Regions from separate parts of the Homo sapiens genome. Here region 2 is linked to region 1. Evidence: fine-mapped expression QTL. A gene starts in region 1. The other region holds a variant in brackets. All regions are shown on one strand. Distances are between the middles of the regions. Region 1 holds the start of PPP2R5B (protein phosphatase 2 regulatory subunit B'beta). Region 2 overlaps BATF2 (basic leucine zipper ATF-like transcription factor 2).

What was found.
Region 2: its variant is fine-mapped to the expression of PPP2R5B in whole blood (TOPMed, PIP above 0.99).

Annotation. Positions count from the first base shown.
Region 1 is chr11:64,917,681-64,930,979 of GRCh38, reverse strand. PPP2R5B (protein phosphatase 2 regulatory subunit B'beta) reads right to left here and starts at 6,291. Exons shown (of 14, transcript NM_006244.4): 1 at 5,952-6,291; 2 at 5,047-5,509; 3 at 4,072-4,268; 4 at 3,077-3,178; 5 at 2,822-2,914; 6 at 2,555-2,685; 7 at 599-658; 8 at 391-499. The coding sequence starts at 5,245. RefSeq lists enhancers at 2,385-3,584, 6,533-6,702, 6,843-6,912, 6,533-7,330 and silencers at 5,993-6,102, 6,203-6,422.
Region 2 is chr11:64,974,274-64,989,909 of GRCh38, reverse strand. BATF2 (basic leucine zipper ATF-like transcription factor 2) reads left to right here. Exons shown (of 3, transcript NM_138456.4): 3 at 98-1,965. The coding sequence ends at 781. Among named protein-coding and RNA genes, the nearest start is that of MAJIN, 10 kb to the right of the region's middle. RefSeq lists an enhancer at 1-246. The variant A/G (reference allele first, on the strand shown) is at 5,100.

The DNA.
Region 1 (13,299 bases):
ACTGCTTGAGCCCAGCAGGTAGAGGCTTCAGTGAGCCATGTTCATACCACTGCTCTCCAGCTGAGGCAACAGAGTACGGTTTTGTCTCAAAAAAAAAAATTGTGTATCAAAATCTCCCATAATAGATTTGTGTATCCAAATATTTGGGAATATAGATGGAGAAGAATGTAATTCTGCCAAGGGAGGGTAGAGAAGAAAAGCCTGGCTTCACAGAGCTGATATCTGAGGTTAGCCTTAAAGCGCCAGTGGGAATTTTCTAAGGTAGATGGAACAGAATTATAAAGACAAAGAAGGTGAGATAGGATCCCTGGAGGATCTGACCTCCAGGACCCACTGGCTGCCCTGACTGTCTGGAGCTCCTGCTGCAGCAGGGACAGGCCTGGGCCTCACCTGGGCATGGAAGACAGACAGCGACTTGACAGAGTGCAGGGGGATCAGGACGCGAACCAGGAACTGCTTGTGCTCCGTCTTCAGGGGCAGCGCAAAGCCATTGATGATGCTGAGGAGGAGGCAGAAGAGAGGAAGAGGGCTCAGGTGACCTGGCCCCAGTCCCTCCTTCCAGAATCCTGAGCTCCAGCTGAGGCCCAGGGAGAATCACCTTCCTAGGATCTCCAGCAGCTCAGCCACACCATTGAAGTGCTCGAATTCATAGATGAACCTGCAAGAGAAGAACGCAGGTGGGCTCAAAGCAAGCAGGGTAGGCCCAGTGCCCCCTTAGGCATCCTGCCTGCCCACCCTCACCTGCACGGCACGCTCATCCAACTCTCCCCCAACCCAGAGGCTGCGCTCCCTTCCCAACATCCCAAACCAGGCCCCATTGAGATCCCCGCCCCCCCACACTGAAATGCCCTTCTCAGCCCAGCCACCTCTGCCACTGAGTCCCAAGCTCAAGGCTCTCTTGCCAGTCAACCAAGAGAATGACAAACACTTAGCACATCTACTCCGTACCATGTAAGTCTCAGAATTATCCAGGGAGATGGGGCTTAAGAAATCCATCACATGGATGAAGAAATCAAGACTCAGCGGTTAAATAAAACAACCCCAATGTTAATAGGCAGGGAATCTAATGAACTCCAAGGTGCAGGAGGACAGGGATCATGGCTCACCCATTTTGTAGCTAATAACAACTAATGTTTCAGAGTCCCGGCCTCAGTCCAGGAGCTATGCTGAGTGCTTTGCAGGCAAGGCCCCATGTCACCTCGATAATGGTCCCTGAGTTAGTACAAGCAGCATCCCCATTTTTATCTTATCTTTGAGATGGAATCTCGCTCTGTCGCCCAGGCAGGAGTGCAGTGGCGCAATCTTGGCTCACTGCAACCTCCACCTCCCAGGCTCAAGCGATTCTCCTGCCTCAGCCTCCTGAGTAGCTGGGATTGCAGGTGTTTACCACCACACTCAGCTAATTTTTGTATTTTTAGTAGAGACGGAGTTTCACCACGTTGGCCAGGCTGATCTTGAACTCCTGATCTCAAGTGATCTGCCCACCTCCAACTCCCAAAGTGCTGGGATTACAGGCATGAGCCACTGCACCCAGCCAGCATTCCCATTTTAAAGACGAGCAAACTAGGAGAGAGCTTAAGTAATTTGCCAAAGTTCACCCAAACGTTGGAACCAAACTCAAATGTAGGCCATACAGCTTCAGAGCCATGGTCTCAACTACAAGGCCACGTGAGCCTTGATGCCCAGTGGGTGCTGGTGCTCAGTGCATGTTTGCAGAAAGAATCTCTCTCTGGGTCCTTATGGCCTGGCATGATAAGGGTCAAATGATTTAGCTCCTAGGCCCCTGGACTGACCCAGTCCCTGCAAACCATTTCATCTCTCTTGGCCTCTACTTTCTCATCTGTAAAATGGAAATAAATACCCATTCTCTGTCAACTTCACAGGCTTTGTATAATCAATATGTAATACGTTACTGAGAAAGGGCTTGGAAAACAGAAGTTCTACAAGGGCCCCTGCAGCCCAGGAGCCTTTGCTGCAGTCTTCTTTTTTTTTGTTTTCTTTTCTTTTTTTTTTTGAGACACAGTCTCCCCGTTGCCCAGGCTGGAGTGCAGTGGCATGATCTCGGCTCACTGTAAACTCCACCTCCTGGGTTCATCCGTCTCGCTCTGTCGCCCAGGCCGGACTGCGGACTGCAGTGGCGCAGTCTCGGCTCACTGCAAGCTCCGCTTCCCGGGTTCACGCCATTCTCCTGCCTCAGCCTCCCGAGTAGCTGGGACTACAGGCGCCCGCCACCGCGCCCGGCTAATTTTTTGTATTTTTAGTAGAGACGGGGTTTCACCTGGGTTCAAGTAATTCTTGTCTCAGCGTCCCAAGTAGCTGGAATTACAGGTGCCCACCACCATGCCTGGCTAATGTTTGTATTTTTATTAGAGACGGGGTTTCACCATGTTGGCCAGGTTGGTCTCAAACTCCTCACCTTAGGTGATCCACCCACCTCGGCCTCCCAAAGTGCTGGGATTACAGGTGTGAGCCACCGCACATGGCCTTTGCCGCAGTCTTCTAACAGCCCTCTCACCCTCCCCAGGTCTCTGCTGGGCAGGCAGCAGCCACTCACCGGAGGAAGATGTGGTTGCACTGTTTGCGGATGTAGGCCCGGAGACCCAGGAACTTGCCATAGACCCGGTGCAGGATGGTCTTGAGGTACTCACGCTCCCGGGGATCCTCACTATCAAATAGCTCCAGGAGCTGTGGGAACCAGAGTCAGGGTCAGGGTCAGGGTCAGGGGAAAGGTCCACCCCAGGTTGCTTCCATCCTATCCCTGGCCCCTCAGAGAGCCTGCCCCTGCCTTGTGGTACCACCCAGCCTGGGCTCCCCACTTCACCATCAGGACAAACTTTTGATCCACATATCTCTTGGCCACGGAGGGCTGGAAGTCTGGGCTCTCCAAGAAACGCAGGAAAAACTCATATACCAGCTGGGGGAGGGGGACAGACAAAAAGGTGAGTTCAGTAACAGCCTCACCCACTCATTCCACCCTATGGCCCTCATCCAACTGTCTAGGGGCTAAGGAGGCCCTCTCCCCATGCCTTGGATCTCTTCTGAAACTTGGATCTCTGTCTTCCCCAACCCTTCAGACCTGCAGGTGTGGCCACGAAGGCTCAAGATTGGGCTCATCCTCTTCAGGGTCAAATTCAGGGTTCTCACTGGGCGGCAGAGTCCGGAAGATATTCACTGAGATCTGAGTGGCAGAGTTGGGGTTCATTAAGGAAAAGCCCTTGAAGACAGAAGCCAGGGAGTCTCTCATTCAAAGCTTTTTTTTTTTTTTTCTTTCCCAAGACAGGGTCTCGCTCTGTTGCCCAAGCTGGAGCGCAGTGGTACAATCTCGACTCACTGCAACCTCAACCTCCCAGGCAGGCTCAAGCGATCCTCCCACCTCAGCCTTCTGAGTAGCTGGACTACAGTAGCACACCACTATGCCCGGCAAATTTTTAAATTTTTGTAGTGATGCGGTCTCACTGTCAGGCTGGTCTTGAACCCCTTGCCTCAAGTGATCCTCTCGCCTTGGCCCAAAGTGCTGGGATTACAGATGAGAGCTGCTGCTCCCGGCCCTCATTCAAAGTTCTAATGGGTTGATTTCAGCATCTGCCCCAGCAAGCAGTTCATTCCTTGGGCAATCATCACCTGAACGCCTAGTTCGTGCAAGCCCTGGGCCAGGGGCTGGGAACCCAGGGGTGAATGGGACACATCCCTGCCTTCTAGGCAGGTGCAATCCAGTGGGGAGAACAAGGCTAGAAGCTGTGAGGTCTACGGGCAGGAAAAGGGAGATTTCCAGCTTGGTTATTGACAGCGGCTTCTTGGCAGAGGCGGCACCTGAGCCAGGCCATGGATGGTATGGGGTGTGGGGCAGGGCACTCCAGGTCTCAGGCAAGCATAAGCAAAGGTGTGGACGTGGGGCAGGCCCGGAGGCATTCAGTGGGTGTTGGGCAGCAGCAGGTCGGGGGGAAGGAAGACGTGGACTGAGGCCAAGCCGATGAGTACAGGGTTATTCTCCACGCAGGGGTCCTGCGGACAGGAAACGGGGCTCACACGCCCTCTCGGCCGGCCCTCGGAGCCTGGGTGGCAGGTGCTCACCATGCGGATGATGTCTGGGTAGACGGGCTCGATGAGGACACCCCGGGTGCTCCCCACACACTCCACCAGCTCGTTGAGGGCTGCCCGCTTCACCTCCTTCCCCTTGAGGTCGGCCACACAGTCCAAGAAGTCAAACATCACCCCACACTGGGCCAGCTTCCGGCTCAGCAGCTCGTGCAGCTCGGAAGCCGGCACATCTGGGGAGGAGAGGGCATCCTGGGCCTGGGCCCCAGCTCCCCCAGCTGCCCCAGCTGTGGGTGGGGCAGACCCTCCTAATCTCCACGGCTGCCTCTGCTGCCCCCAGGCCCCATGCTCTTGTGCCATCTCCTGCTCCTTGCAGACAGCAAACAACTACTGTCCCTTCCTCCATTCCTGGGGGTTGAGGGTTGCTTTTCTTCCTCCTAATCCAGGCTCAGAGAGTATGATGGCCTGAGTTTTAAAGCAAGATCACAAATCCTGGATGCAGCAGCTTTCCACAGGTGCCCCAAACAGCTGCTGCCTCCCTCTCAGGTGGCACCCTGTTCTAAGGGCCAGAAATGGGGAGGGGTTCAGGGCCAAGGATCTCTACGGTGTCCTCAGGCTTGGCCAGTCTGGCCCTATGGCCCAAGGCTGGGGAAGGGACCTATGTGGTGATCCCAGGGAACCCTGCCAAGCGCCTGCTCCAGGGATCTGGCAGCTGGCTGGGCTGATAGTGGCCCCCTGGAACCCAGGCTATGGGCCCCACCCTTGGCCTTGGTCTGCCCCTAGGGTGGCACCACCTTCGGATGTCCCACCTCTAAGGATGACAGGCCAGTCAGGCCATGTGTCAGCAGAGAGGGCTGGAGGGCTGGGGTCAGTTCTGATGGCGGAGAACCTAGCCTGGAGGGGTATCCAAACTCTCTCTCTTGGCAGCTGCCCGCTGCCTCCCACCCCTCCCCATGGCCCTGCTGGTCCCCTCGGGGGTTCGGTTCCCCCAGTGGCCAGCAGCCAGCTCACCTTTGAGCAGGGGCAGCGGTGTGAGCTCTTGCTGGTTGCTCTGATAGCGGAACTGAGAGGAGCTGTGGGAGCGGCGGGGCCGGGCTCTGCGGAGGGAACGGCGGGAGAAGCCGTCCACCTTGTCGGGTGGGGGCACAGGCGACAGCCCGGGGGAGGAGGGGCTAGTGGGGGTGCTTGCAGGGGGCAGCTTCGTCTCCATGGCGGTCAGGCGGCAGGGCAAGCTTTCAGAGCCCCGGGGGTTCTCTCTGGGCCTGGGAGGTGCTGGGTGAGACTGGACAGACTAACTTGGTCCCATCCTGTCCGGCCTTTGGGGGGGGGGCACAACCACAGTCCTGGGCCCCCCCCCAGGGCCTCCTGCAACTGCCCAGTCCTGGGGGGCAGACAGGGTAGAAAGGAGGATGGCTCAGGCCTCAGATCCTTCCTGGGGGTCCCGAAGAGTCCAGTTAGGGTTCCCACCCTGGCTCTTTTGAAAACGAAGTCAGGCAGAAAGATCAGCAAGAAAGAGACAGAGAAAGCCCATCAGTTCCTCAGGAGAGCCGGGAGGCTGCGTGGAGTGCCCAGGTCTTTTCCCTCCTATCCTTGCCCAGACCCTAAAATAGGGGTGCAGCCCCCTCCCATCCTGGACATGTCCCTCCCTTCTCTCAGACAGAAAGCCTCCAAAACAACCCCTCCCAGAATAGGGCCTATCCCCCAAGCCAGCCCCGACTCAGAATGGAGCCCCGATCGTCATCCCTGCCCCTTTCAGAATGGAACGCATCGCTGCTCCACTAATCCCGGCCACTTGGGACAACCCCAAGACTGGAGGTGCTGTCCCGATGCCACCCCGCTCCTAGAACCTGGCACCCTCCCCCACCTCAGCTCCTCCTTCCTGGCCCCCCAAACCTCATGGGGTGGGGGACACTCACTTCTCGAAAACCTAGACTTCGGTCGCCAACCCCCGGGGGCTGCCCGTAGGGAGGGCGACGGCCGTTCAGGGCCCCTTCGCAGCGGTTCCGCTCGGGGCGCTGGGGCTGGGCGGCGGCGCTCCTGGGTTCTCTCCCGGGCTCCGGGGGGGCGGCTAGAGCATGCCCCCAACTCAGCCCCGGGCCGGGACTGGGCGCTCGGCGGGCTCTGCACCGGCCGTCGCAGCGCGCGGATCTCCGCTGAAGTCCTGGGACTCCGACCCAACGCGGTGCAGCGCAACGGGAGCCCCGGCTCGGCTCCGTGCGCACCGGCACCCGCCGCCCAGCTGCTCAGGATGACATCAAGTCACCTCCCCCCACCCGGCCCGCACCTCCCCGCGGGCTGAAAGGGGGGGCTGCGTCAGGAAGGCCCGGGGCCGCTGGGAGATGTAGTCCCCGCGCCGTTTAAAGTGAGCTGCCAGACCAAAGGGGACACCCCTGAGGGCAGACTCGGGGGTGAAGGCCGAAGCTTTTGAAGCCAGAGAGCAGAGTGGGATGGGCTCTAGCCGGGGGCGGGAAGCCTGGATTCTAGAAGGGAGGCTGCATAGGGAAAGAGGAGGGCTTAGGAGTTTGCACCAGGAAAGTAGGGTGATGCCAGGACACTGACAGGAAGGAGTCGCAGCAAGCTACGCTAGGCCCACAGATTTGGCCTGGGCCTTCTATGCCCTAGGCCATCCCCCCAGGAACCTCACCCTTACCCCAGAACCACCAGACACTTCAGAAACCCCTTGGAAACCAGCACTGGACTAGTTAAAAGTCTGCGATGAGTCAGTGCTTGCTGGGAGGGGTGTGGTGCACCCAAGCCTGCTGGGAGATGCAGTCCATCCTCAGGCCTGCAGTCCCCCTCCCGTCCCTTGCTGTCTATGGTGACATCATGGTCTCCAGTTTAAAGGGCCAGTCTTGGAGTGGCAAAGCCCGAGAGGAGGAGGTTTTCTCCTTGAGCTGCCACCTCATCCCAGGCAGCCTGGCCTTCCCGGATGGACCTTTCAGCCCCCCTGGACCCTAAGATGTGCTGGGTGGGTCAGTGTCTCTTGCTCAAAATCCTGCTGCTGGCATGCAAGGCACAGGTGGGAGTCCAGGAGTTTGGCATGCTAACCAAAAGTTCCCAGCCTGCAGTCCTGGGCCCCCGTCCTAGGATCCTGGACCCCAACACTCTTTATAGCCCTGAACTCCATCCCGCTACACTGCTGTGAAATCTCCACCCTGAAATGTTGCCTGGATGAGCAGCTGGTCCATGGTGAGCAGTAGGAAAGGGTGATGAGACCAGATAATGAGGTCGGGGAGGGGACTAGGGGCCTTTTCAGAGTCTGCCCCATCTTGCTTTGGGTCTTGGTGACCACTCAGTGCTCCAGCGGAACCACCCAGCCATCCTCCCGGTTGCAGAGGAAGCCTGGGTGCGCAAGAGGTGTCCGCCTACCAAAGCAACAGAAGGCAGAGGCCTGCACCGAGGGCCGCAGTTCACCAGGCTGGGGTCCAGGACTCCGGCACTGGAGACCCAGCAAGTGCTCTGCTTGCTCAGGAACCTCCGGCAGGCCTTGCCCATCCGGCCCTTGGTGTCCCTGTCTGTCCAATGGGAATCCATGATCTCCCTCCTTGCCCACCTCCCAGGCTCTTCTGCATCCCTGAACAAGCTGAGGGAGGGCAGGCCCACAGAGCCTCTGCAGCCAGGCAAGGACCCCAAGGCCTAGAGAGGAGAAGCGCCTTGCCCAGTGTCACACAGCGTGTCATCAAAAGTTGGGGCCAGGGGCCAGGCTTCCACCTCCCAGCTGGCTACAGCCCATCTCCACAAGCCCCCTGGGTACCAGTGCCCTGGTCTCAAGGCTAGACTGACCACAGAGGACTGGTGTTTTATATAAAGGAAGTGCTAAGGCCAGGTGTGATGGCTCATACCTGTAATCTCAATACTTTGGGAGGCTGAGGTGGGAAGATCACATAAGCCCAGGAGTTAGAGGCTGCAGTAAGCTGTGATTGTGCTGTCGCATTCCAGCCTGGGTGACAGAGACCCTGTCTCAAAAACAAAACAAAAAACAGAGATGTTCCATTTGAGAAATGGGGCACTGAAGAGTAGAGGAGAGGGATAAGACTCTTGGAAGAAAAAAAAAACTTTTTTTTTTTTTTGAGATGGAGTCTCGCTCTGTTGCCCAGGCTGGAGTGCAGTGGCACAAACTCGGCTCACTGCAAGCTCCGCCTCCTGGGTTCACACCATTCTCCTGCCTCAGCCTCCCGAATAGCTGGGACTTCAGGCGCCCACCACCAAGCCCAGCTAGTTTTTTTGTATTTTTAGTAGAGACGGGGTTTCACCGTGTTAGCCAGGATGGTCTCGATCTCCTGACCTCGTGATCCGCCCACCTCGGCCTCCCAAAGTGCTGGGATTACAGGCGTGAGCCACTGTGCCCGGCTGAAAAAAAAGACTTCTGAAGTGGTGGCATTTGAACTGGGTCTCAAAATAGGCACAGTGTCACTTGGAGGATGCAAGATTGAACATTTTTTGTTTGTTTGTTTTTTGAGACAGAGTCTCACTCTGTCACCCAGGCTTGAGTGCAGTGGCACCATCTCAGCTCACTGCTGCAACCTCCACCTCCCAGGCCCAAGCAATCCTCCTGCCTCAGCCTCCCAAGTAGCTGGAACCACAGATGCACGCCATCATGCCAGGCTAATTTTTGTTTTTTTTGGTAGAGACAGGGTTTCGCCATGTTGCGCAGGCTGGTCTCAAACTCCTGAGCTCAAGCGATCCATTCGCCTCAGCCTCCTAAATGCTGGGATTACAGGAGTGAGCCATTGCACCCGGCTTTATTTTATTTTTTTATTTTTTTTTTGCAGTGGCGCGATCCTGGCTCACTGCAACCTCTGCCTCCTGGGCTCAAGCAATCCTCCCACCTCAGCCTCAGTCCCGAGTAACTGGGACCTCAGGCGCATGCCACCACTCCTGGCTAATTTTTTGTATTCTTTGTAGAGACAGGGTTTTGCTATGTTGCCCAGACTGGTCTCTAACTCAAGTGATCCTCTCGCCTTGGCCTCCCAAAGTGCTGGGACTACAGGTGTGAGCCACCATGTGTGGCTTTTACCACAATTTAAACGAAATGCATCACGTTGTGTTATATGCAACGAAAGATGTATGTTCAAAACAAAAAAAAGTCACCAATTTCAGTTGTACAATCCAACAGTATTGTATTTATAGATGAAGTTCCATGTATTTATAGATGAAGTTTGCTTTTTCAGGTGTGTTCCAGATCCCCCTGTTCTCCTGGCTGCCCCTGAGCTACCTGGAGGAGCTCCTCTGGCCTGGACACCCAGTTCCCTGCCAGCTGCCTGGGATCTCCTCCCTCCAGCTCCACCCATCCTTGAGGGATGGCCTCTCTTCCTCCATGAAAGCCCTTCCCTCTGATAAAACCCAAGCTCTCCACCCAGGACAGAGTCAAAAGCCGCAGCCCCCGGGCCACCTCTGTGATCCCTTTCTCACCCCAGAGGGTGGGCCATCCCTGGGGGGAGGGAGATACTCCTTCAGGGCCCCTGAGGTCTGAAGCACACAGTTTGCCTGATGAGTTTTCACCTAATCTAAGGTGGGAAGGATGCCCCCCGGCCTGGGCAAAGCCTGGCCCTCCCCATTTTCTCTCTATGGGGAGGAATCCTGACCCCAAACTTCCCCTGACCTCTTGACTGGAATCCAGTTGTCCAGTAGAAGAAGCCCCTAAATGCAGTGCCCAGGGCCAGTGTATTTGTTAGAACTGCTGGACCTAGGCCAGGTGCAGGGGCTCATGCCTGTAATCTCAGCACTTTGGGAGGCAGAGGCAGGTGGATTGCTTGAGCCCAAGAGTTCAAGACCAGCCTGGGCCACATAGTGAAACTCCATCTCTACAAAAAATAGAAAAATTAGCTGGGCATGGTGGCACGAGCCTATAGTCCCAGCTACTCGGGGAGGCTGAGGTGGGAGGATTGCTTGAGCCCGGGAGGCAGAGGTTGCAGTGAACTGTGATCATGCCCCTGTACTCCAGCCTGAGCAAGAATGAGGTACTGGCTCAAAAAAAAAATTACATATATATATATATATAGAACTGCTGGACCGAAGGCTGGGCGCAGTGGCTCACACCTGTAATCCCAGCACTTTGGGAGGCCGAGGCGGGCAGATCATGAGGTCAAAACTTCGAGACCAACCTGACCAACACGGTGAAACCCCATCTCTACTAAAAACAGAAAAATTAGCCAGGCGTGGTGGTGCACGCCTGTAATTCCAGCTACTCAGGAAGCTGAGGCAGGAGAATCACTTGAACCCAGGAGGCAGAAGTTGCAGCAAGCTGAGATCGCGCCACTGCACTCCAGGCTGGGAGACAGAGCGAGACTCCGTCTCAAAAAAAAAAAAAATAACTGCTGGACCTAAAGTGGGGCTTGGGACTTCGTTGCAGAATGTCCCATGGGGTTCCCAACACCCCATTTCCTCCCAAGAGAATATCGTCCCCTTTACTGTGCGAGGATTTTTTGCTCACTCCTTTAGCTCCTACTCCGAGGCTAGGTTGGAGAATGACTGTCTCTGGAGTTGGTTTTCTACAGAGCTTGTCTGGGGAAGTATCTTTGTGTCCTCTCAGTCCTGTCTAATCTTCTGCTGTGGTACACACATGGCACTGGGAACTGGGGCTCAGGAATGGACCTGCAGGCACCAACCCCTAAGAGACGGATGTGCCCACCAGTTCAGTTACAACAGACAGATGTGAGTGCAGCCTGACCCTGGGGTCTCCCTCACTGGAGGAGAGCAAACTCCCAGAGTGGCTCCAGGGGCCTAGAAAGGATAACTTTTCTTGGACCAAGAGAATATCCCCTTCTATCCCCACCACCTTTGGAAGGAGGAGAAGTGGTGTTTTTTCTTTTTTCTTTCCTTTTTTTGTTTTTGAGGTGGAGTCTTCTCTGTCACCCAGGCTGGAGTGCAGTGGTGCAATCTCAGCTCACGGCAACCTCTGCCCCCCGGGATCAAGTGACTCTGGCCACCTCAGCCTCCCAAAAATGCTGGGATTACACGTGTAAGCCACTGTTCCAAGCCTCTTTTTTCTTTTTATGATTTCTGAATCTTAATGCTTTTTCATTCATTCGCTCCACAGCATTTAGGCACGTAGCCTTGGTCTCCTCTCCCTTAAGAATGGGGATATTAATAGAACCTCCCTCATGAGCATATGGTGAACAGCAGAGCAGATGAGATCGTGCACGTAAAGTAACAAGCCCAAGGCCTAGGACATCACACAGGCTTAATTCATGGTGGCAATTATATTTACTATTAATTTTTTTTTTAGACAAGATCTCCGTCTGTCACCGAGGCCGGAGTGCAGTGGTGCATTCATAGCTTCACTGCAACTTCAAACTCCTGGGCTCAAATGACCAAAGGCACACACCACCACGCCCGGCTAATTTTTTGAAACATTTTTTTTTTTTTGTAGACACAGGGATTCAGCTATGTTGCCCAGGCTGGTCTCAAACTCCTGGGCTCAAGCGATCCTTCTGCCTCAGCCTCCCAAAGTGCTGGGATTACAGGAGTGAGCAACCCAACCCGGTATATTATTATTAATGTAATAATCAGTTGGTGAGCACAGTACTGCCCCCAGCCTGCCATGGAAGAAGGCAGAGCTCTAGATTCCTTCCACAAGCAGTTTCTTCTTTTTTTTTTTTTGAGACAGAATCTCGCTCTGTCAGCCAGGCTGGAGTGCAGTGGCACAAACTTGGCTCACCACAAGCTCCGCCTCCCAGGTTCACACCATTCTCCTGCCTCAGCCTCCCGAGTAGCTGGGACTACAGGCGCCCGCCATCACACTCTGCTAATTTTTTAAATATTTTTTAGTAGAGATGGGGTTTCACTGTGTTAGCCAGGGTGGTCTCGATTTCCTGACCTCATGATCCACCCGCCTTGGCCTCCCAAAGTGCTGGGATTACAGGCATGAGCCACCGTGCCTGGCCCATAAGCACTTTCTGAATGGCTGTCCTATCAGCCTGCCTCCCTGAATGGAGCCTGCTCCTTCCAGGTAATGAACTATCTCCACTTACTAACCCAACCCCAGTTACATAGGATAAAACTGAGGGTCACAAGAGGAGAAGAAACCACCCATGGGTGGGACTGGAATACAGGTCCCTGCCCGGTGGGCCAGGGCGGTTGCCCTTGCTTCAGGCTGAGTTTTGGCATTAGAATGTAAGAGTCCAGCTCCCAAGTAAGATTAAAATAGAAACACAGGCTAGGTGGGGTAGCTCACACCTGTAATCCCAGCTACTCAGGAATTCCTTGAACCCAGGAGCCAGAGGTTGCGTGAGAGGAGACTGCACCACTGCACTCCAGCCTGGGCAACAGAGCAAGACTCTGTCTCAAAAAAAATAAATAAAATAGAAACATAGGCCGGGCACGGTGGCTCGTGCCTGTAATCCCAACACTTTGGGAGGCCAAGGCAGGCTGATCACCTAAGGTCAGGAGTTCGAGACCAGCCTGCCCAACACGGTAATTAGCTGGGTGCGGTGGTGCATGCCTGTAATCCCAGCTACTCTGGGAGGCCAAGGCAGCAGAATCATTTGAACCCAGGAGGCAGAGGTTGCAGTGAGCCAAGATTGTGCCACTGCACTCCAGCCTAGGTGACAGAGAGAGTCTGTCTCAAAAAGAAAAGAAAAGAAACATAATTACCTATGGCTGTTCCTGAAGTCGCCCATGATGTAAGAGGTTTTGTGTGGCTGCCCCCTACAGAGCAGCGGTTGGCAAACTTTTTCTGTGAAGGGCCAGAAAATAAATATTTTAGGCTTTGCAGGCCTCTGTCTCAAGTACTGAATTCTGCTCTTGTAGCAAGAAAGCAGCCCGGGGCAGAACTTAAGCAAATGAGCAAGACTGTGTGACACTAAAACGTTATGTATAAACACTGGAATGTGAATTTCATATGATTTTTCACATGCCATGAAAAGTTCATTCTTCTTTTGATTTTTCCCCTAACCATTTAAAAGACATAAAAACCATACTTAGCTCAAAGGCCGTACAAAAACAATGCCCCCCTGCTTAAAGGAGGCAGAATCCATTCTTTGATTTTAGGACTAGAGATATGAAAAGCTATTATTATTTCAGAGAGGTGCCTAAGGCCTGACCGACGGCAGAGAGAAGGGAGGGTCAGTTAATCTCCCTCTGAGCATTCCGGGGTGAGGAGGGGAAAAAAGACCTTCCTTGGTGATGGATTCAGAGCCCTTATTTATTTTTGTTTGTTTTTGAGGCAGGGTCTTTCTCGTATCTTAATCTGTTTTCTTACCTGTAAAGCGGTGGCAATAATCCCTACCTTGAGCGATTATTAAGAGGGCTCAATGAGATAAA
Region 2 (15,636 bases), 58 kb before region 1:
TTCTCCTGAAGTTGAGGACCCTGGAAGGGGCTAAGGCTCATGCGGGGCCCCTGACACTGGCTGAGGTTCCCCTCCCCGCCCATCTGCTTCTCTGCAGCAGCACGAGTCTCTGGAAAAAGACAACCTCGCCCTGCGGAAGGAGATCCAGTCCCTGCAGGCCGAGCTGGCGTGGTGGAGCCGGACCCTGCACGTGCATGAGCGCCTGTGCCCCATGGATTGTGCCTCCTGCTCAGCTCCAGGGCTCCTGGGCTGCTGGGACCAGGCTGAGGGGCTCCTGGGCCCTGGCCCACAGGGACAACATGGCTGCCGGGAGCAGCTGGAGCTGTTCCAGACCCCGGGTTCCTGTTACCCAGCTCAGCCGCTCTCTCCAGGTCCACAGCCTCATGATTCTCCCAGCCTCCTCCAGTGCCCCCTGCCCTCACTGTCCCTTGGCCCCGCTGTGGTTGCTGAACCTCCTGTCCAGCTGTCCCCCAGCCCTCTCCTGTTTGCCTCGCACACTGGTTCCAGCCTGCAGGGGTCTTCCTCTAAGCTCAGTGCCCTCCAGCCCAGCCTCACGGCCCAAACTGCCCCTCCACAGCCCCTCGAGCTGGAGCATCCCACCAGAGGGAAGCTGGGGTCCTCTCCCGACAACCCTTCCTCTGCCCTGGGGCTTGCACGTCTGCAGAGCAGGGAGCACAAACCTGCTCTCTCAGCAGCCACTTGGCAAGGGCTGGTTGTGGATCCCAGCCCTCACCCTCTCCTGGCCTTTCCTCTGCTCTCCTCTGCTCAAGTCCACTTCTAACCTGGTCTTCGGAGCTGGGTTGGCCCCTTCTTTGGGCTCAGGAAGCAGCCTTAGCACACGGGCCTCTCCTCCCTCACTACTGGGTGCTGCCCTGCGTGGCTGACCAGCTGGCCCAGGATTTCACAGTCGAAAAGGAAGCCACCACTGATGCCTCCCACTGTGACAGGCCCTGTCACCACCAATATCTTATTTCAACCTCACAGTTGACCTGAGAAATCGAGATTATCACTCCACTTTTTCAGACAAGGAAACTGAGGCTCAGGGAAGCCAAGTGACAAGTCCAAGGTCACGAAGACTTTCTTGGAGCCCGAAACACCACCCTCTGCTCCTCCTTCTCCTGTCCTGGCCCAGGCATCCTAGGGGCTGAAATCCTGGAAACCGTGGGCTGGTGTGAGAAGGTTTGCATGCTCAGAGCAGAGAAGGGCTCTCCCCACTGCTTCGTGATTCCAGGGCCAGAGCCATGCAGTCCCAGAAACCCCAACCTAGCTGGGGCAGGTCCAGAGTCCAAGCCCTGGTGGGTAGAGGCCAAGCAGAAGCCCTGAAGTGGACTCTTGCTTCCCCTAGTAGTGTTTTCAGTGCCAAGAAGCTGAAACTGTGAGCTGGAGTTGGGGAGAGGTCTGGAAGAGGACCATCTGGGATTTCTACAGCCTGGGTACCCATAGCCACACCAAGGCTTCTGGGAGATTCTGCAGGGTCAGCTTTCCAGGCTGTTCCCAAATAGCTCCCTGCCTCCCCACTGCCCCTAAAGCCACAGCAGAAGAGCCATTCATCTCATAAACAAAAAGGAAGAGGAAAGAATGAGGAAGGACCCTGTGCAAGGTTATTTGCAGGCAGGGATGGGCTTGTACCTGACAGCACCCACCCCTGTGTGGCCCCCAGGCCCTCATCACCCTCAGACCCCTCCTAAGCAGTTCCCTCATTGCTCTTTGGACTAGGCTGACAGCAGGAAGAGCAGGGCCCATGACCGGGTGGAAGTTCAGTTTTGGTGTCTGCTTCAAGAGGGGGTTTTACACTCTGATTCCAGGACAAGCACTCTGAGGCGGGTGGGGGAGAGAAACCCTGGCTCTTCACCCAGGTTTCACACACATGTAAATGAAACACTATGTTAGTATCTAACACACTCCTGGATACAGAACACAAGTCTTGGCACATATGTGATGGAAATAAAGTGTTTTGCAATCTTTTCTGCTTTGCCTAGTTACTTAAACCTCTCTTTGTAACCTACAGAGTCTTTGAAAAAAGAGAGAATAACAGAGATGGGCAACCCCTCATGAACCAGCTAATTAATCTCCCTCCAATACTACAGATGAGGAAACTGAGGCTCAGAGATGAGACGGACTTGCGCAGGTGTATTAGTCAGTGTTCTCTAGAGAAATAGAACCAATAGAGTGTGTGTGTGTGTGTGTGTGTGTGTGTGTGAAGACAGAGAGATTTTTTTTTTAATGTTGTTTTTTTTTTGAGATGGAGTTTCACTCTTGTCACCCAGGCTGGAGTGCAATGGTGCAATCTCGGCTCACTGCAACCTTCGCCTCCCGGGCTCAAGTGATTCTCCTGCCTCAGCCTCCCAAGTAGTGGGGATTACAGGTGCCCACCACCACACCCAGCTAATTTTTTCCTTTTTTTGAGACAGAATCTCGCTCTGTCGCCCAGGCTGGAGTGCAGTGGTGCAATCTCGGCTCACTGCAAGCTCCGCCTCCCGGGTTCACGCCATTCTCCTGACTCAGTCTCCTGGACTACAGGCGCCTGCCACCATGCCCGGCTAATTTTTTTTTTTTTTTTTTTTTTGTATTTTTAGTAGAGACAGGGTTTCACCATGTTAGCCAGGATGGTCTCGATCTCCTGACATTGTGATCTGCCTGCCTCGGCCTCCCAAAGTGCTGGGATTACAGGCATGAGCCACCACACCCAGCCTCACGCCCAGCTAATTTTTGTATTTTTAGTAGAGATGGGGTTCCACCATGTTGGCCAGGCTGGTCTCGAACTCTTGACCTCAAGTGATCTGCCCGCCTTGTCCTCCCAAAGTGCTGGGATTACAGGCGTGAACCACCACGCCCTGCCAAGGGAGACTTATTTTAAGAAATTGGCTCATGTGATGATGGAGGTTGGCAAGTCCAAATTCTTCAGGGTGAATTGTCAGGCTGGAGCCCCAGGAAAGTGCTGCTGTTGCAGTTCAAGTCCAAAGGCCACCAGCTGCAGAACTTACTCTAGCTTGGAAAAGGTTAGTCTTTTTGTTCTATTCAGGCCTTCAGTCGATTAGATGAGGCCCACCTACATTATGGAGGGCAACCTGCTTTATTCAAAGCCCACCAACTTCAATGTTGATCTCGTCCAAAAACACATTCACAGAAACATTCAGAATAATGTTTGACCACATATCTGGGCACTGTGGCCCAGCCAAGAGGACACATACAAGTAACCATTGTGCCAGGTTCACATAGCAAAGGGAAGTCACAGGGCTGTGGATGGCAGCAGAGCCATGGTCACCAGCGATTCAGGGAAAGCAAACAGGTGGGAGGGAAGCGAAGGTGCTGTTGGTTAGAGGTGGGCTGGAGTCTGGGACAGGATTCAACATACTCTGGGCACGAGGACTCAGTGGAGGATGAGGACAGCATGGTCGTGCTGTATCTGTATACCCTAAAGTATAGTAGGCTCTGTGCTATTTTACTTGGATTAACTCAATGATGCCTCTAGTAACTCTGTGACGTATGCTTCTCAACCCCACTGTTCAGAAGAGGAAACTGTCTTTGAGCTAGAGCTGTAAGAAAGAGAGAGAAAGGGAAACTGAGGTCCAGAGGTAGTAAGTAATAAGTCCAAGGTCACATAGCTAGGAAACTATATAGACTTGGTTCAACAATCAGGAGCCCTTAGCTGCAGGCAACCCAGCCTTCAACCTTCCTGGATTCTCATTGCAGGCCCAGACTTCAGGGGCAGCACATGCTAATAGATATGACCCAAGAAGGTAAAACTCTACCCCACCCTCAAACAAATAGATGGGAGTGATTCAATTAATGCTGGTACACTCATGTGATGGACTACTGAAAAGCTGAATAAAGAATGCTTGGCCAGGCGCGGTGGCTCACGCCTATAATCCCAGCACTTTGGAAGGCCAAGGCAGGCGATCATGAGGTCAGGAGTTCAAGACCAGCCTGGCCAACATGGTGAAACCCTGTCTCTAATAAAAATACAAAAATTAGCTGGGCATTGTGGCGGGTGCCTATAATCCCAGGTACTCGGGAGGCTGAGGCAGGAGAATTGCTTGAACCCGGGAGGCAGAGGTTGCAGTGAGCCGAGATCACACCACTGCACTCCAGCCTGGGCGATGGAGCAACACTCCGTCTTGGGCGGAAAAACAAGTTACTTGGGTGGCTGAGGTGGGAGGATTGCTTGAGCCAGGGAGGTCGAGGCTGCAGTGAGACATGATCGAGCCACTGCACTCCAGTCTGGATGACAGAGTGAGATCCTGCCTCAAAAAAAAAAAAAAAATAGAGAATTCAAGGGAAGGGTCTCTCAGGAGGTGTCATTCAGGATGAGACCTGACAAGATGAGAATGACAAGAGAGAGTCAGCCATGCAAAGATCTAGGGAAAGAACATGCCACTCAGAGGCAATACCATGTGTAAAAACTCCGGGTCTGGAAAAAGCGCTAAACGTAGGCTGGGCACGGTGGCTCACACCTATAATCCCAGCACTTTGGGAGGCCGAGGCGGGCGGATCACAAGGTCAGGAGATTGAGACCATCCTGGCTAACACGGTGAAACCCTGTCTCTACTAAAAATACAAAAAATTAGCCGGGCGTGGTGGCAGGCGCCTGTAGTCCCAGCTACTCAGGAGGCTGAGGCAGGAGAATGGTGTGAACCCGGGAGGTGGAGCTTGCAGTGAGCCGAGATGGCGCCACTGCACTCCAGCCTGGGCAACAGAGCGAGACTCCGCCTCAAAAAAAAAAAGAAAAAGCACTAAACATGTTAGAGGAACAGAAAGGAGTAGGCCAGCTGGGCGCAGTGGTGCACACCTCTAATCCCGGCACTTTGGGAGGCCGAGGTGGCTTGAGCCCATGAGTTTGAGACCAGCCTGGGCAACAAAGCAAGACCTTGTCTCTACTAAAAATTCAAAGAATTAGCTGGGCGTGGTGGCATGCACCTGTAGTCCCAGCTATTCGAGAGGCTGAGATGGGAGAATTGCTTGAGCCCAGGAAGTCAAGGCTACAGTGAGCCATGATCATGCCCCTGCACACTGGGTGACAGAGCAAGACTTGTCTCAAAAAAAAAAAGAAGAAGAAGAAGAGAAAAGAAAGGAGGAGGAGAATCAGGGAAGAGAAAAGG[A/G]AAGATGAAGTCTGAGAAGAGGCCAGAAAAATTGTGTAAGCCATGAGAAGGATGTGAGATTCTTCCTGTGTGAGTGGGAGAATTTTTTTTTTTTTTTGAGATGGAGTCTCGCTCTGTTGCCCAGGCTGGAGTACAGTGGTGCGATCTCAGCTCACTGCAAGCTCTGCCTCCCGGGTTCACGCCATTCTCCTGCCTCAGCCTCCCAAGTAGCTGGGACTACAGGCGCCTGCCACCACACACAGCTAATTTTTTGTATTTTTAGTAGAGACAGGGTTTCACCGTGTTAGCCAGGATGGTCTCGATCTCCTGACCTCGTGATCTGCCCGCCTCAGCCTCCCAAAGTGCTGGGATTACAGGCGTGAGCCACCACACCCAGCCGTGAGTGGGAGAATTTTAAACAGAGATGTACACTGATTTTTTTTTTTTTGAGACGGAGTCTTGCTCTGTTGCCCAGGCTGGAGTGCAGTGCACGATATTGGCTCACTGCAATCTCTGCCTCCTGGGTTCAAGAGATTCTCCTGCCTCAGCCTCCTGAGTAGCTGGGATTACAGGTGCCTGCCACCGCGCACAGCTAATTTTTTATATTTTTGGTAGGGACAGGGTTTCACCATGTCGGCCAGGCTGGTCTCGAACTCCTGACCTCAATTGATCCAGCCACCTCAGCCTTCCAAAGTGCTGGGATTACGGGCGTGAGCCACCGTGCCCAGCCTCTGATTTTTAAATTCATTTAAAATATATTCAGCTCCTCTTTTCAAACACTATCCTAGGCATTTGGGATAAAGAAGAGAACAAAACAGACAAAAATGCTTATATTTAATAGGGAAGCTGGGTCAAGAGGGGTAAGACAAGAAAAGAGGAATTGAGAGGGTCAGGGTGGAGAAGGTACAATTTAAAATAGGGTGGTCGCCCAGGCGCGGTGGCTCATGCCTGTAATCCCAGCACTTTGGGAGGCTGAGGTGGGAGGATCACTTGAGGTCAAGAGTTCGAGACTAGCCTGGCCAACATGGCAAAACACCGTCTCTACTAAAAATACAAAAATTAGCCAGGTGTGGTGGCAGGAACCTGTGATCCCAGCTACTCAGGAGGCAGAGGCACAAGAATCACTTGAACCTGGGAGGTGGAGGTTGCAGTAAGCCGAGATCGCGCCAGTGCACTCCAGCCTGGGTGACAGAGCGAGACTCAGTCTCAATAAAATAAATAAAATAAAATAAAATAAAATAAAATAAAATAAAATAAAATAAAATAAAATATAAAATAAAATATAAAATAAAATATAAAATAAAATATAAAATAAAATAAAATAAAATAAAATAAAATAAAATAAAATAAAATAAAATGAGTGGTCAACGTCAGTTCAATAGGAAGAGAGTATTTGAAGCCAGGTGTAGTGGCTTCAAATCCAAGCACTTTGGGAGGCTGAGGTGGTCAGATCACTAGAGGCCAGGAGTTCAAGACCAGCCTGGCCAACATGGCAAAACTCAAACTCCTTCTCTACTAAGAATACACACACACAAAAAGAAAATTAGCAGCTGGGCACAGAGGCTCACGCCTGTAATCCCAGCACTTTGGGAGGCCAAGGTGGGCGGATCACCTGAGGTCAGGAGTTCCAGACCAGACTGGCCAACATGAAACCCCATCTCTACTAAAAATACAAAAAAAATTAGCTGGGCATGGTGGAACATGCCTGTAATCCCAGCTACTTGGGAGGCTGAAGCAGGAGAATTGCTTGAACCCAGGAGGCAGAGGTTGCGGTGAGCTGAGATCATGCTATTGCACTCCAGCCTGGGCAACAGAGCAAGACTCCATCTCAAAAACAAAAGAAAGAAAGAAAAGAAAAAAGAAAATTAGCAGGGCATGGTGGCGCATGCCTGTAGTCCCCACTACTTGGGAGGCTGAGGCACAAGCATCTCTGGAACCCAGAAGGTGGAGGTTGCAGTGAGCAGAGATCACGCCACTGCACTCCACCCTGGGTGACAGAGTGAGACTCCGTCTCAAAAAAAAAAAAAAAAGGCAGAGGACATTTGAGCAAGGTCTTGAAGAAGGCAGTGAATTAGCCAGGTGGAGATGAGTTCCAGGCAGAGGAAACAGCCAGTGCCGAGGCCTGGGGGCAGGTGTGAGCCTGAAACATTTGAGCCAGGGGGCTGGTGTGGCTGGAGGGAGGGAATGAAGGAGGGTCAGAGATGGTCAGTTGGTCAGGGATAAGGTCAGAGAGGTAACCAAGGGCCAGATCATACAGACCACTGCAAGGGCATTGCCTTTTTTCCATGAATCAGGGAGCCCGACATTTAAAAAAGATCAGATTGTTCAGGGGTGTGAATGGAAGCAGTGAGGTGGTAAGAAGAGGTCAGCCCATCTGACAAGGGATTAATAACCAGAATATATAAGGAGCCCAAACAACTCTCTAGGAAAAGATCTAATAATCTTTTTTGAAAAATTTTTCTTCCTATTTTCTTGAAAGAAACCTAATAATCTGATTTAAAAATGGGCAACAATTCTGGGCACAGTGGCTCACACCTGTAATCTCAGAACTTTGGGACGCTGATGCAGGCAGATCACTTGAAGTCAGGAATTTGAGACCAGTCTGGCCAACATGGCGAAATCCTGTCTCTACTAAAAATACAACAATTAGCCAGGTGTGGTGGCAGGTGCCTGTAATCCCAGCACTTTGAGAGGCATGTGTCTATAATCCCAGCTATTCGGGAGGCTGAGGCACGAGAATTGCATGAACCCAGGAGGTGGAGGTTGCAGTGAGCTCGGATCATGCCACTGCACTCCAGCCTGGGTGACAGAGCAAGACTTCATCTCAAAAAAAATAAAAATAAAAATAAATCAAAAAAAAAGGTGGGGGGAGGCAAAAGATTCCAGTAGACATTTCTCAAAAGAAGATAAACAAATGGCAAATAGACATATGAAAAGGTGCTAACATCATTAATCATCAGAGTAATGCTAATGAAAACTACAATGAGATATCATCGCACTCCAGTTCAAATGGCTTATACCCAAAAACAGTCAGTAACAAACGCTGGCGAGGATGTGGAAGAAAGGGAACCCTTGAACACTGTTGGTGGGAATGTAAATTAGTACAACCACTATGGAGAACAGTTTGGAGGTTCCCCAAAAAACTAAAAATAGAGCTACCATATGATCCAGCACTCCCACTGCTGGGTATAGATCCAAAAGAAAGGAAATGAGTATATCGAAGAAATATCTGACTCCCATGTTGCAGCACTGTTCACAATAGCCAAGATGCGGAACCAACCTGTGTCCATCAACAGAAGAATGGATAAGGAAAATGTGGTACATATACACAATGGAGTACTGTTCAGCTATAAAAAGAATGAGATTCTGTCGTTTGCAACATGGATGGAACTGAAGATCATTATGTTAGGTGAAATAAGTCAGGCACAGAAAGATAAAAATCACATGTTTTCACTTATTTGTGGGATCTAAAATTCAAAATAATTGAACTAATGGAGATAGAGAGTAGAAGGATGATTACCAAAGGCTAGGAAGAGGATTGGGGGTGGGTGGGGGGAGGTGGGGATGATTAACAGATACAAAAAAAAAGTAGAAAGAATGAATAAGACCTACTATTTGATGGCATATAATAGGGTGACTATAGTCAATAATCATGTAATTGTCACTTGGAAATAATTAAAAGAGTGTAATTGTATTGTTTGTAACACCAAGGATAAATGCTTAAGGGGTGGATACCTCATTCTCCATGATGTGATTATTGTGCCTTGCATGCTTGTATTCAAAACATCTCATGCATGCCTACTGTGTATTCACAAAACTTAAAAACTGACAGAAAAGAAGTGGTCGGATTCAGGGTGTGCTTTACAGATACAGCTGATGGGATATGCTCATGGACTGAGTGTGGTGAAAGGGAGGAAGGAAGGATGACTGAGATTTGGGACCTGAGCAATTGATGGTTGGTGGTGCCAAAAACCAAGAAAGGCTGGAAGAGGGGCAGTTTGGGGTTTGGTGGTGGGGATCAGGAGCCCTATTTTGGCCATGTTAAATTTGGGATACCTATTTGACATCCAACTGGTTTAAATAAGAGTCTGGAGTCTGGGAAATGTCAGGACTGGATAAATAAATTTGGAAGCCATCAGTAGGTTGGTGGACAATGAGAGATGGGCAAGATGACCTCTGAGGGCCTTTGCAGCCTGTGTTTTCTTGTGCACCCAGAGCTCTCAGCCTGATAGTCTTTCCCTTATCACTCCTTCATGCCCAGAATTTGCCCCCATCCTTCCTTTTTGTTTTTCTGAGATGGAGTCTCGCTGTCGCCCAGGCTGGAGTGCAGTGGCGCGATCTCGGCTCACTGCAGGCTCTGTCCCCCTGAGTTCACGCCATTCTCCTGCCTCAGCCTCCTGAGTAGCTGGGACTACAGGCGCCCGCCACCTCGCCCGGCTAATTTTTTCTATTTTTAGTAGAGACGGGGTTTCACCGTGTTAGCCAGGATGGTCTCGATTTCCTGACCTAGTGATCCACCCGCCTTGGCCTCCCAAAGTGCTGGGATTACAGGCGTGAACCACCGCGCCCGGCCCCATCCTTCCTTTTCAAATGCTCCTTTCTCCAGGAAGCCTCCTGTAATCTTCCAAGATAAAAGTGACCTGCAGGCCCAGCGCGTTGGCTCATACCTGTAATCCCAGCACTTTGAGGGGCCAAAGCAGGCGGATCATCTGAGGTTGGGAGTTCAAGACCAGCCTGACCAACATGGAGAAACCCCGTCTCTACTAAAAATACAAAATTAGCCGGGCATGGTGATGCATGCCTGTAATCCCAGCTACTCGGGAGGTTGAGGCAGGAGAATCGCTTGAACCCAGGAGGCAGAGGTTGTGGTGAGCCAAGACCATGCCATTGTACTCCAGCCTGGGCAACAAGAGCAAAAATCCGTCTCAAAAAAAAAAAAAAAAAAAGTGACCTGCTTTCCTCTCCATGCCCGTCCTGTGCTTTTCTGTCATCTTCCTTTTTGTGTGACTGTGTCTTGCTACCCTCTTCCCTCCCTCAATGATAGCAACCAGTGTGGCACATAATGATTATGATTATTATTATTACTGAGACAGGGAGGCCCAGGCTGGAGTGTAATGGCACAAACACAACTCACTGCAGCCTTGACCTCCCAGGCTCAAGTGATTCTCCCTTCTCGGCCTCCCAATGTACCAGATTCTCAGGCGTGAGTCACACCTGGCCGACACATAATGAATACTTTTATTTTTTAATTTTTTACTTTTTAAAATTTTTGTTAGAGATGGGGTCTTGCTATGTTGACCAGGCTGGTCTCGAGCTCCTGGCCTCAAACGATTCTCCCATCTCGGCCTCCCAAAGTTCTGTGGTTACAGCCATGAGCCACTGTGTCCGGCCAATGAGTAGTTTTAAAAAGCCTATGCTGGCCGGGTGCGGTGGCTCACGCCTGTAATCCCAGCACTTTGGGAGGCCGAGGTGGGCAGATCACGAGGTCAGGAGATCGAGACCATCCTGGCTAACACGGTGAAACCCCGTCTCTACTAAAAATACAAAAAAAATTAGCCGGGCGTGGTGGCAGGCGCCTGTAGTCCCAGCTACTCAGGAGGCTGAGGCAGGAGAATGGCGTGAACCCCAGGGGATGGAGCCTGCAGTGAGCCAAGATCGTGCCACTGCACTCCAGCCTGGGCGACAGCGAGACTCTGTTTCAAAAAAAAAAAAAAAAAAAAAAAAAGCCTATGCTTTCGGAGGCAGTGGAGCATAGCGGTTAGTGGTGAAACAGCTTAGGCTCCAGGGCCAGACAGGATTAGGTTCAAATCTCAGCTCTATTATTTCCTCATTCAACTTCAAGACTGAGCTTTCTCATCTGGAAAATGGAGATTTAAAAAGGTACCCACCTACAGTCCACCCAACATATATGTGTGTGTGTATATACACAAATATATGAATGTATAATGTAGATAGGTGATATGGTTTGGTTGTGTCCCCACCCAAATCTCAACTTGAATTGTATCTCCCAGAATTCTCGCGTGTTGTGGGAGGGACCCAGGGAAAGGTAATTCAATCATGGGGGTCTATCTTTCCCGTGCTATTCTCGTGACAGTGAGTAAGTCTCACGAGATCTGATGCGTTTATCAGGGGTTTCTTCTTTTGCGTCTTCCTCATTTTTCTCTTGCTGCTGTCATGTAAGAAGTGTCTTTTGCCTCCCGCCATGCTGAGGCCTCCCCAGCCATGTGGAACTGTAAGTCCAATTAAACCTCTTTTTCTTCCCAGTTTCAGGTATGTCTTTGTCAGCAGTGTGAAAACGAACTAATACGATAGGTATAATAGAAAAGTATATGTTCAGCCAGGCATGGTGGCTCACACTTGTAATCCCAACACTTTGGGAAGCCAGGTGAGAGGATGGCTTAAGCCCAAGAGTTCAAGACCAGCCTGGGCGACAGAGCGAGACTCTGTCTCAAAAAAGAAAAAGAAAATTCACTGAGCTACACATTTATGATCTGTGGTGGGTTTTTGTTTTGTTTTGTTTTGTTTTTTGAGACAGGGTCTGGCTCTGTCGCCCAGGCTGGAGCGTAGCGGTGGGATCTCGGCTCACTGCAAGCTCCGCCTCCCAGGTTCACGACATTCTCCTGCCTCAGCCTCCCGAGTAGCTGGGACTACTGGCGCCCGCCACCACGCCCGGCTAATTTTTTGTATTTTTAGTAGAGACGGGGTTTCACCGTGTTAGCCAGGACGGTCTCGATCTCCTGACCTCGTGATCCGCCCGCCTCGGCCTCCCAAAGTGCTGGGATTATAGGCGTGAGCCACCACGCCCAGCCTGACCTGTGGTTTTTTCTATTATGTCTGGTTACTTTGGAAAAAGGGGGTTGCGTGTAAGGAGTAGCTCACAGTCCCTGGCATATAGTAAGTGTTCAGTAAGTGTTAACTACTCCAAGTGAATGAAAAAACTCATGACTTGCCCCCAAGTGAAATCCATTAAAAATCAGAACCATGGACAGATCAGAGCCTGTGCTCAGGGAGGGTTGAAGGAAAAACCTCAGGTCTGATATGGGGGACCTGAGGCAAGAAGGAATCTGAGAACTTTCCTCTTGGATTAGTGGTTCAGTGCCTTCTGGGGGCATTCCCATCCTGCAGGAGAGAGACTATTCCTTGGGGACTGTAAGTGTCTTTGTGTTCCTGCAGAAATGCATGCCATTTTAAAAGGTCTACAGCCCCGTTTTTCAAAGCAGAGAATGCTGAAGTCTCTCCAGAGAGGCCAGTCCTGCCTCCACTACATCCGACAGCGTACCCAGGCCCTTGCAAGCTTTCCTCCTTGTGTCTTGGCTTCTGTTTATCTGGTGAGGGGGCGGACAGGGAAGAGACTCCAGTCAGGGTAAAAATAACCTAGGACAGATCTCTCAATCATGCCAAGACTCCTGAGTCTGACTCCCTGGGGTGGGCCTGGACCCAGTGTCTACAACAGTTTTCATGGACGATTCTTGGGAACACTTGAGCCTCTAACAGCTTGGTCTTTTGAGTTAGATTCAAACACAAAACATAGCCAAAGAGAGCTCTTCTGAAGGATCTCTGTGGTTGGGGAGGGGACTCCCGGGTTAGTGGTTCACCTCCTTGCTGGGGTCCTCTGCTTCTGTCCTGTGACAGCCACCAACCGCAGGAATCGGCTCGTGTTACTAAAACTGCAAAAAGGCCTTCAAGGTCTGGGCTGAGCCTGGAAGGATTTGGAGGCCTCTTTGAGCAAACCTATCCCACCCCATCACCTCTTCAATCTCCACAAGGCTCATACCTGGATGGTCAATGGGTTTCACAGCCTTACTGTGAGTCAGACACCCAACACACAGAGAGGGAGTGGTAAACTGAAGACTGAATTACACTACCCTAAGGGTGGGGGCAGATCCCCCTGTCCCTACCCCCAGGGTTGCCTCTCTGAGTCAAGTCATTTCAATTCCCCATGGCCCCGTCAGACCAGTCTCTGGCTGGTCAGATTTTCTGAGCTGAGGCCCGTTGCCTGGCAGGTAATTGACCTGGGAAGCCCAAAGGGAGGTGGTAGGGGTTGGGGAGCCCCAGGTGCTGCAGGAAATGGAGCTGTTGATTAAGTGGCTCCTTCCCTCAGCCTTGGAGGCTGGGAAGCTGCACAGGCCCAAGAAGCAGCAGCAGCTCTCTAAGGAACAAGACCTGGTTCTGACCCTCTTGGGGAGATCATGGGTCTGCAGAGCATTTCCCTAAGAGCTTCAGGGGCTGGCTGTTAATGGGGGCCCTATTCCCAGCACTCAATTCTTCCTCAGTAGGTGCTAGGCTTCTTCCTAGGACAGGATTTGTTTTGTTCTCTGGGGCTCTCAGACTGAACTGCTTAGGGGGAGGAAAGCCAGTTACAGAATGTGACAATGTGACCAGGGCCCCTCTGAGAAGCCTTTCTGGGAGTCCCTGGGAGAAAGGGACCAGGAGAGGGCCGGGCATGGTAGCTCACACCTGTAATCCCAGCACTTTGGGAGGCCGAGGCAGGCGGATCACCTGAGATCAGGAGTTCCAGACCAGCCTGGCCAACATGGTGAACACCCGTCTCTACTAAAAATACAAAAATTAGCCGGGTGTGGTGGTGCACACTTGTAATCCCAGCTACTTGGGAGGCTGAGGCAGGAGAACTGCTTGAACCCAGGAGGCAGAGGTTGCAGTGAGTCGAGATTGTACCACTGCTCTCCAGCCTGGGCAACAGCGAGACTCCATCTCAAATAAATAAATAAATAGCCCAGGCACAGTGGCTCACGCTTGTAATCCCAGCACTTTGGGAGGCCGAGGTGGGTGGATCACCAAAGGTCAGGAGTTAAAGACCAGCCTGGCCAACACGGCAAAACCCCATCTCTACTAAAAATACAAAAAAAATTAGATAGGCCTGGTGGTGGGTACCTGTAATCTCAGCTACTTGGGAGGCTGAGGCAGGAGAGTTGCTTGAACCCAGGAGGCAGAGGGTGCAGTGAGCCGAGATCGTGCCATTGCACTCCAGCCTGGGCGACACTGGAACGACACTCTGTCTCAAAAATAAATAAATTAATTAAAATAAATAAAGGGACCAGGAGAGGGTAAAGTAATCCTGCCTCCAAGTCAAAGGAGTGGGACAGTAGTCAAGACCAAGGACATCCCTTGAAGGGTCAGGTGGTCAGATGGTTGTGATAAAGCACAGGATTCATGGTCCCTTGAGAGTGTCCCCGCCAGAGCTTGATTCTCAGAAGCACTTGAACTATACCCACAGCCACATGTAAAGAATGTTTCATCCAAAGTTTATCTGAGTATGGTCCCTTCTACCAGCAGCAGCAGCACCTGGGAACTTACTTGTTCAAAAGGCAAATTCTCAGACCCCCAGATCTACTAAATCAGAAACTTGGGGGCTCGGTCCAGCAATCTACAAGCCCTCTAGGTAGTTCTGATGCATGCCCACGTTTGAGAACTAATACTGGTGTAATCTGACAGGACTCCAGAGCTGGATTGCCCAGTAAACTTCCTTCATTTGAAAATTCATCAACATTCATCAAACATGGGTTAGCACCTTCTATGTGCTAGATCCCTTGTCAAGCCACATAAGAAGCCCAAAGTGGCCGGGTGCGGTGCCTCACACCTGTAATCCCACTACTTCAGGAGGCCAAGGCGGGCAGATCACGAGGTCAGGAGATCGAGACCATCCTGGCTAACACGGTGAAACCCCGTCTCTACTAAAAATACAAAAAATTAGCCAGGTGTCGTGGTGGATGCCTGTAGTCCCAGCTACTCAGGAGGCTGAGGCAGGAGAATGGCGTGAACCCGGGAGGCAGAGCTTGCAGTGAGCCGTGATCGCACCGCTGCACTCCAGCCTGGGCGACAGAGGGAGACTCCGTCTCAAAAAAAAAAAAAAAAAAAAAAAGCCCAAAGTGGTGTAAATTGCAGTTCCCACCCTCCAAGCAGACTGGCCAGTCAATACAAGGAAAGGCAAAAAAAAAAAAGGGACCTGATCTTCTGGCTAGGGGGATTACAGAGGGCTTCTCAGAGGAGGTGGCATTTGGGCTGGGCCTTGAAGGATAAGTAAGAATAAGCAGGCAGAAAATGAAAATGAAAATGAAAATGAAGAAGCCAGGTTCCAGGAACTTTTTTTTTGCGGGGGGACTCGATGTGTCCCCCAGGCCAGACTGCAGTGGCATGATCACAGCTCACTGCAGCCTTGGACCCCTGGGCTCAAGCAATCCTCCCCCTCAGCCTCCTGAGTAACTGGGAATACAGGCATGCACTTCTATGTCTGGCTATTTTTTTTATTTTTTTGTGGAGATGGAGTCTTACTATGTTGCCCAGGCGAGTCTTGAACTCCTGGCCTCAAGAGATCCTCCTGTCTCCCAACGTGTTGGGATTACAGGTGTGAACCATCACGCCTGGCCTCAGGAACATATTTCTGAGACCAAAATCCAACTTTTAAGAGCATCTTATTGCTGTAGGGATAAATTCAAGTACCTCAAGTACCTCAGCACAAGCTTCTTCGTAGTCTAGCCCCTGTGTCTCCCCTCAACCATATCTCCTGCCACTCCACACCTGTTTCTTTCTTTTTCTTTTC